2 separate regions of the Homo sapiens genome follow, and region 1 is linked to region 2. Evidence: fine-mapped expression QTL. A gene starts in region 2. The other region holds a variant in brackets. All regions are shown on one strand. Distances are from middle to middle.

Region 1 (4,393 bases), 360 kb after region 2:
GGAGTTTGCTGGAGGTCCACTCCAGACCCTGTTTGCCTGGGTATCACCAGTGGAGGTTTTGCAGAACAGCAAATATTGCTGCCTAATCCTTCCTCTGGAAGCTTCGTCTCAGAAGGGCACCTGCCTGTATGAGGTGTCTGTCAGCCCCTACTGGGAGGTGTCTCCCAGTTAGGCTACATAGGGTTCAGGGACCCACTTGAGGAGGCAGCCTGTCCATTCTCAGAGCTCATACACTGTGCTGGGAGAACCACTGGTCTCTTCAAAGCTGTCAGACAGAGACGTTTAAGTCTGCTGAAGTTTCTGCTGCCTTTTGTTCATCTATGCCCTGCCCACAGAGGTGGAATCTAGAAAGGCAGTAGGCCTGGCTGAGCTGTGGTGGGCTCCACCCAGTTCGAGCTTCCTGGCCACTTTATTTACCTACTCAAGCCTCAGCAATGGCAGACACCCCTCCCCCCATGAGGCTACTGCCTTGCAGGTCGATCTCAGACTGCTGTGCTAGCAGTGAGCAAGGCTCCGTGGGCATGGGACCCAGTGAGCCAGGCATGGGAGAGTATCTCCTGGTCTGCTGGTTGCTAAGACCTTGGGAAAAGCACAGTATTTAGGCAGGAGTGTCCCATTTTTCCAGGTACAGTCTGTCATGGCTTCCTTTGGCTAGGAAAGGGAAATCCCCCAACCCCTTGCACTTCCCAGGTGAGGCAACACTGCGCCCTGCTTCAGCTCACCCTCCATGAGCTGCACCCACTGTCCAAGCAGTCCCAGTGATATGAACAAGGTACCTCAGTTGGAAATGCAGAAATCACCCATCTTCTGCATCGATCACACTGGGATCTGCAGACCAGAGCTGTTCCTATTCGACCATCTTGGAATGGAAGACCCGGTTTTGTTTTTTTTATATGGGCAGATGTAGAATTCTCTGCTGACAGATTTTTTTTTTCAGGTTTACTTGTACAAATAGCACCAGAGGACCCCAGCCCCATGCAGATGGCAGCCTATTGGGGAGGTTGCACCATTCCTTCTGTCCTCACCTTGGTAGACAGAGATATCCACTCTGAAGTCTTTGTAGGGGCTTGGGCACCTTTGGGAGCCTGAGCTGGAACTGAAGCTGGAGCTGCAGCCTGGGCCTTGGTTTGACCCTTGGCCTTTGGCTGGCACTGCCCGAGCCCCTTGACAACATGGGCAAGAGCCTACTTCCCAAGCTTGAGGTGGGCAATGTAGGCAAGTCAATCGAGCTTGTTGCTGACACTCTTTGGGATCTTGAGCTTAACTTCCTTGGGCTTTATGAGGGCCTTGATAGCCTTGGCATGTGCACTCATGGCCTTGGCATTGTTGACCTGCATCTTCTTTAGGCCCTTCTTGATGTGCTTCTTGGCAAAGCGCATATTCTTCAGGAACTTGGGGTCCACACCCTTAAGAGATTCATATCTTTGTGATCAGGGTTTCTTGATACCATTTCTGTGCCATTTTTCGGACTGGTTGTGTTTGGTATGGTTCTTGGACTTGGTTATGTCTGCACCTTAAGCCGCAGCTCCCAAAGCACCTAGAACCAGAAGGCTCTGGCAGATTTTTTTTTCAACACTTTGAATAATTAATCCCACTGCCTTGCAGACTCTGTTTTCTGTTGATAAATCAACTATTAATCTTATTGAGGATCTCTTTTCCATGATGAGTTAGCTTTTCTTTTGATGGTTTTAAAAATCTTTCTTTGGATTTTGGTAGCTTGATTATACTGTGTCTAGGTATGGATCTTTTCAGTTTATCTGAATTACAGTTTTTGAATTTCTTGGGTGTGTAGATTAATGTTTCCAACATATTTGTTTTATTAGCCATTATTTTTAAAAATATACTTTGTTCCTTTTTCTCAGCCCTCGCCTTCTGGGACTACAAAATGCATATGTTGATACCCTTGATAGAGTCTCACATGTCCTCAAAACTCTGCTCCTCCTTACTTATTTTATTCACTAAACTGGATAATCTCAACACTGTCTTCAAATTTACTGCTTTTTTTCTGCCTGCCCAACTCTTCTGTTTTGA[C/T]CATCCAATAAATTTTCACTTCTGAACATTTCAACTCTAGAATTTCTATTTGGCTCCTTTTAAACATTTCCATCTTCAATGATGTTTTCTATTTGGAGACATCTTTTTTTTGTATTTTTTTGTTACTTATTTAGACATGGTTTTCTTTAATTCTTGAGCATATTTAACTTAGTTGATTCAAATCCTATGTCTCATAAGCCAACATCTGGCTTGTCAGGTATAGTTTGTACTGATTGCCTTTTCTTCCTGTGTAGAAGTCATGCTTTCATGTTTTCTTCCATGGCTCCTTTGTTGAAAACTAGGCCTTTTAAACATATAATGTAACAATTCTGGAAATCATATTCTTCCCTCTTTCTCAATGTTTGTTGTTGTTGCTCCCTGTTGTAGTGATTGTTTGTTTGGTTAGTGGCTTTTTGTTAACGAATTCTGTAAAATCAGTATTCGTCATGTGTGGCCACTGAATCTCTACTTGGTTAGCTTAGTGCTCAGCTATTAAGTTAGTTGTCTGCAACCAATACTTCTCCCAGTCTTTATTGAGAGGCTCTGAGTATGTGACACTCAGTCAGGCAGTTTACATCTCTGCCTTAGCCTCCACCAACTGCATATGCAGAGCCCCAAGATCATCCAGAGGTGAGAGCTTAGGGACTTCCCCTTTCACCTCATCTACCTCTTCTATCTTTGCCACCCCTGAGATGGCAAGACCAACTCCTCCTCTTCTTTCCTCTCCTCAGCCTACTTAACATGAAGATGTTAAGGATTAAGACCTGTATGATAATCCATTTCCACTTAATGAATAGTAAATACATTTTCTCTTCCTTACGCTTTTCTTAATAACATTTTCTTTTCTCTAGCTTACTTTACCATAAGAATATAGTATATAATGCATATAACACACAGAATATGTGTTAATAACTGTTTATGTTATTGTTAAGGCTGCCAGCCAAGAGTAGGCTATAAGTAGTTCAGTTTTTAGAGTCAAAATTTATATGCAGATTTTTGAGTGCATGGGGTGTTGGCGCCCCCAACACTCTGCACTGTTCAAGGGTCAACTGTATTTTGTTCCTCAGCTTCTAATTTTCAACTCTTTGTTAATTATATTATTTTCCCAAATTGTTATCCATCACTTCAGACAGCTGTGACCTCAAAACATTTGTCAGTAAATATGTTTGACAAATGCCTTATGAGGGGAGCCTTCTCACACTAGGCAACTTTGAGTCAGGTCAAATAGAGACAGCCTTCCAAATAGGGTCTTAGGGGAGCCAGCAGAAAGGTATAATAATGACAGCTTTTTGTGAATGAGGTTTTGAAATAACTCAAGCTCTGTCCTCCTCCCTCTAGTACCAAGAATGTTAGCTGTTATTTTTTTTTCAAGGCTGCAGCATAGCTGGAGAGTAGGAACTGAAACTAAGATATGTTAAAAACATCCCAACATTCACTTTCTTACTGGGACTCAGTTTTTCTTCAACAAAAGATTCCCTAAATTGCTGCAAGTCTTTGGTTAATTTTCAGAGTTCTGAAAGAGATGATTTTGACAACTTTTTGCTAGTTTTGTGTTGCTTTTATGGAGGAACCAATTTTTGGAGATCCTACTCTGTCAAGTTCCCTGAAGTCGCCCCCATCCTAACTCTTGGTGCTAGAGACAGCATGCTCTTCTAATTTTAAATAGTTATGTAGATAAATTTATTGTGTTTTCCTTATATTCAATCTCAGTTACAATGACAAAAGCCCCCAAATTATCTCCATCACATAATATTCCAAAAGTTAGATAAATAATACATTTGCTTCAAAAATAAGTGGGTATTTTTTCTATTAAGAAAAATAATTTCATGATAATTCCATGTCTAAAATAATGAATGCAAAGTGCCAGCCTCCCCACATATAGTGTCATCCTATTCCATTGTTTGCTTCTCAGGTGACACAATAGGTACTATGGACATCATGGCTCAGGACTAGGCCAGAGACCGAACAGATCCCAGGTGTCAGAATTTTCCTTTCTATGTCTACCATAGCCTCGCTTACAGGCAAAGAATGTGGAGATTGTTCATACCAAGAGGACAAGAAGAGGACAATTATGGGTGTAGACACAGTCAGTTGCAATATGTGCCAGTCCTGAATGGCAAAAGCCAGCCCTCCTAGGAGCATCTGCCCAACACTGTAGGAACATAATAGCACCATTATTGTCATAGATCGTGACCGGGGCAATGTCCACTCTAAGCCTGGAAGAAAACATATACATAGTAATAATTTTAGACAAATGGTAATTTCAAGGTCAATTCAAGACATGGAGATGATAAAATGCTCAAATTATTGACTTACTGAGAATAAAAGTGTTTCCCAAAATAGTCATGGTGGAGAACCCTGC
Region 2 (4,350 bases):
CTGGTCAACAGAGTAAGACCCACATCTCTGCAAAAAATAAAAAATTACCCGCGCATGGTGACCCATACCTGTAGCTGGGGAATGCAATGAGCACTCCAGCCTGGCAGCCTGGGTGACAGAATGAGACCCTTTCTCAAGAAAAAAAAAAGGTGGGGCCGGGCGCAGTGGCTCAGGCCTGTAATCCCAGCATTTTGGGAGGCTGAGGCAGATGGATTACCTAAGGTCAGAAGTTCGAGACCAGCCTGGCCAACATGGTGAAACCTGGTCTCTACTAAAAATACAAAAAAAAAAAAAATTAGCTGGGCGTGGTGGTGGGCGCCTGTAATCCCAGCTACTTGGGAGGCTGAGGCAGGAGAATCACTTGAATCTGGGAGGCGGAGGTTGCAGCGAGCCGAGATTGCACCACTAAGTTCCAGCCTAGGCGACAGAGTGAGACTCCAACTCAAAAAAAAAAAGAAAGAAAGAAAAAAGAAAAAAAAAAGGAACACAAGCTTTGGAGCAGGTCAGCTATTCATACCCAAATACCTCCCCTTAATCTTTTTCTGGCTTATGTATAAGGTAGGAATAATAATAGTATCAGTGTCAACCTAAAATAATCCGACGGGTCAGAACCTAATTTAGAGTTTTTTCAAGTGCGAAGTATGAGAATGGAACACCTGGAACCACCAACTCCAGAAGAATGGAGTCAGTGTTGTGAAGTAAGAAAGTTAAGATTTCATTTATATAGGCAAGCACACATGACTTTTTAGCAGGATTACATTTTTCACAGAAGATTGGTACATAGTTATAGCAATTTGGTTGGCTATAGACAATGTTTCTTTTTGGGAAGTATACATGTAACTTTTTTTTTCCAATTTTTTTTTATTTGGAGTTTCGCACTGTTGCCTGGGCTGGAGTGCAGTGTCAAGATCTTGCCTAACTGCAACCTCCGCCTCCCGGGTTCAAGACATTCTTCTGCCTCAGCCTCTGGAGTAGCTGGGATTACAGGCACCTGCCACCACACACGGCTAATTTTTTGTATTTTTAGTAGAGATGGGTTTTCACTATTTTGGCCAGGCTGGTCTTGAACTTCTGATCTCGTGATTTGCATGTAACTTTTTTTTTTTTTTTTTTTTTTTTTTTTTTTTTTTTTGAGAGGGAGTCAGCCGGGCGCGGTGGCTCACGCCTGTAATCCCAGCACTTTGGGAGGCCGAGGTGGGCGGATCACCTGAGGTCGGGAGTTCGAGACCAGCCTGACCAACATGGAGAAACCCCGTCTCTATTAAAAAAAAAAAAAGAGAGAGGGAGTCTTGCTCTGCATCCCAGGCTGAAGTGCAGTGGAGCGATCTCGGCTCTTTGCAATCTCAGCTTCCCGGGTTCAAGCAATTGTCCTGCCCCAGCCTCCCCAGTAGCCGAGTAGCCGGGATTACAGGCATGAGCCACCAGTGCCCGGCGCATGTAACATTTTTTAACAGAGGATGAAATAGTCATGGATTTCCTACACTTCAGCCTGGGCGACACAGCAAGACTCCGTCTCAAAAAAAAAAAAAAAAAAAAAAAGAGTTAATCTATAATCTGAGAACAGAAGTTGTAAACTATATGTGACTCGCAGTCATATCTCTCTCGAGGCTTAAAGTGTTTTTTGGGCTTCCAATAGCTCTTAAATTTTTTTTTTTTTTTGAGACTCCGTCTTGCTTTGTCGCCAGGCTGGAGTGCAGTGGCGCGATCTCAACTCACTGCACCCTCCGCCTCCCGGGTTCAAGCGATTCTCCTGCCTCAGCCTCCTGAGTAGCTGGGACTACAGACGCCTGCCACCACGCCCGGCCAATTTTTTGTATTTTTAGTAGAGACGGGGTTTCGCCATGTTAGCCAGGATGGTCTCAATCTCCTGACCTCATGATCTGCCCGCCTCGGCCTCTCAAAGTGCTGGTATTACAGGCGTAAACCACAGCGCCCGGCCTAAATTTCATTATTTTCTGTAGCTTCTTGGCCTTTTGGCTAAGGCTCGTAAACATTTTTTTTTTATTTCTACACCAATTTCTGTAGATTATTATGAGAATTAAGGGAGAGAATTATATCAAGCGCTTAGCACAGTGTCTGGCATCTAGGAAGAAAGTAGTAAGTGATAGCATTTATTTATTTATTTATTTTATTTATTGAGATGGAGTTTCGCTCTTGTTGCCCAGGCATCTAGGAAGAAAGCAGTAAGTGGTAGCATTTATCAATCTATCTATCTATCTATCTATCTATCTATTATCTATCTATCTATCTATCTATCTATCTATCTATCTATCTATCTATCTATCTGTTGAGATGGAGTTTCGCTCTTGTTGCCCAGGCTGGAGTTCAGTGGCAAGATCTCGGGCCGCCTCCCAGGTTCAAGCAATTCAGATAGTTGCCGACCGGGCGCGGTGGCTCACTCCTGTAATCCCAACACTTTGGGAGGCCGAGGTGGGTGGATCACCTGAGGTTGGGAGTTTGAGACCAGCCTGACCAACATGGAGAAACCCCATCTCTACTAAAAATACAAAATTAGTCAGGTGTGGTGGCACATGCCTTTAATCCCAGCTACTCGGGAGGATGAGGCAGGAGAATCGCTTGAACCCGGGAGGCGGAGGTTGCAGTGAGCCGAGATCGCGCCACTGCACTCCAGCCTGGGCAACAGAGGGAGACTCCGCCTCAAAAAAAAAAGTTGTCGTTTGATGGCTGGGGGGCGGGGGTGAGGGGCGGGGCTTAGTGGTTCTCGCCCACGACGGCGAGGCCCAATCAGACCCGCGGAGCTGGTGGAGTTCCGCCCTCGCGGAGGAGGTGGTGTTCCGCCCTCCTAGTCGCAGCAAGCGCGGAACTGGGGTTGCGGCGTCTAAGTGTTTCCGGTGGATTCCCAGGGACTGTCGGAGGTGTGGACTCTGCCTGCCTACCTGGTCTGGGAAGATGTTCTACCATGTGAGCAGGGCTCAGGGTGGCGGCAAGGGCTGGGTGGAAAGGAAGAGCAAGGCCAGGCGCCGGCGCGAGACTCCCCTTGTCGTCCAATAACCTGCCAGCGCCTGGCCTGGTCGCCATCCCACTTTTCTCCGCAGATCTCCCTAGAGCACGAAATCCTGCTGCACCCGCGCTACTTCGGCCCCAACTTGCTCAACACGGTGAAGCAGAAGCTCTTCACCGAGGTGGAGGGGACCTGCACAGGGAAGTGAGTGTCGAGCTCACCGCACCGCCAGATCGTTCGATGCGCACACGGGGCGCTATACCTGCAACCCCTCCCCAACTCCTACTCGTCCTGCCACCCACTCTGGGGACCCCTCTCCTCTCTCAGGCAGCCAGTTGCTTCCTGCTTTGGGTTCCCAGGGCGCCCTCTGCAATGCTGGACAATAAGACTTCCTTCTCTCAGCTGAGATGGGTCATTCATTGACTCCTCAAACATTTTAAAAACCCTTGGTGTGTGCCAGGACCCGTGTTGGGCTCAGAACAAGGTAGAATGGGAACAAGATAGAATGAGGACAGCCCCTGTGGAGCTCACAGTGTAATCATTGTTCCTGTGTCTGCTCTCCCTCTGTCATTCTGCTGGTTTTCTCTTATCCCCTGTGCCCAGGGACCACACACCATGGGCCTCTATATATCTTCTGAATGAATGACCAGAAAAAGCAGATCGAGAGTTTGGGGGAGGAAGGAAGTAGCCTGGGATTTGACCATCTCTGGGCTTTGCACAGAGGGGCCTCTCTGATATTAATGAGCTGGGACCCAGCTCAGGGCAGTGGAGTACTTGGGCCTCCAGCATCAGAAAAACCTGCAGGAACATGCAGATTCCTGAGCCTCCTTATTCCCTACAGAATCAAGACTGTCTGGGGCAGACCTGAGAATCTGCATTTTAAGAAGATGATTCTCAGGCATCCCGAAGATTGAGATCTGTTGCCTCAAGGACTCCAGCCTTCTTGGACATTTATTGTGAAATTACCAGAACAGCATTTGGTCTTACACATACTGATCTCTGTTCTGTCTTCTTTTGGTCATTAAGCTCTCTGGGAGCAGAGGTGCTATCTACTTGTCCTTTTGCTCTCCCCGACCCTACCCCCAAGAGCTCAGCGACTTTTATTGCAGATGTCTTTAGAGGCTCTTGGACACACAGTGTCTTCCTGTTTCTCATCCTCCTTGCAGGTATGGCTTTGTAATTGCTGTCACCACCATTGACAATATTGGTGCTGGTGTGATCCAGCCAGGCCGAGGCTTTGTCCTTTATCCAGTTAAGTACAAGGCCATTGTTTTCCGGCCATTTAAAGGGGAGGTCGTGGATGCTGTTGTCACTCAGGTCAACAAGGTGAGACCATACATAGGGGAGGCAGTGGGGTAGTCTCTCGGAAGATCTGGGTTGGGTTCTGG

Alleles and levels. Positions count from the first base shown, and alleles are read on the strand shown. Sizes are in standard deviations (SD) of each study's normalised expression.
With allele C in place of T in region 1, the expression in prefrontal cortex of the gene that starts at base 2,842 in region 2 is higher (moderate effect, 0.64 SD a copy in GTEx).

Evidence for each region. PIP is the estimated chance that this variant, and not a neighbour inherited with it, causes the effect.
Region 1: its variant is the best candidate, but not a certain one, in a credible set for the expression of POLR2G in prefrontal cortex (GTEx, PIP 0.78).

The regions. Positions count from the first base shown.
Region 1 is chr11:63,114,834-63,119,226 of GRCh38, forward strand. SLC22A24 (solute carrier family 22 member 24) reads right to left here. Exons shown (of 10, transcript NM_001136506.2): 3 at 4,348-4,393; 4 at 4,079-4,247. It also overlaps the pseudogene RPL29P22. Among named protein-coding and RNA genes, the nearest start is that of SLC22A24, 27 kb to the right of the region's middle. The variant C/T (reference allele first, on the strand shown) is at 2,032.
Region 2 is chr11:62,758,739-62,763,088 of GRCh38, forward strand. POLR2G (RNA polymerase II subunit G) reads left to right here and starts at 2,842. Exons shown (of 8, transcript NM_002696.3): 1 at 2,842-2,922; 2 at 3,057-3,166; 3 at 4,129-4,288. The coding sequence starts at 2,911. RefSeq lists an enhancer at 2,851-3,050.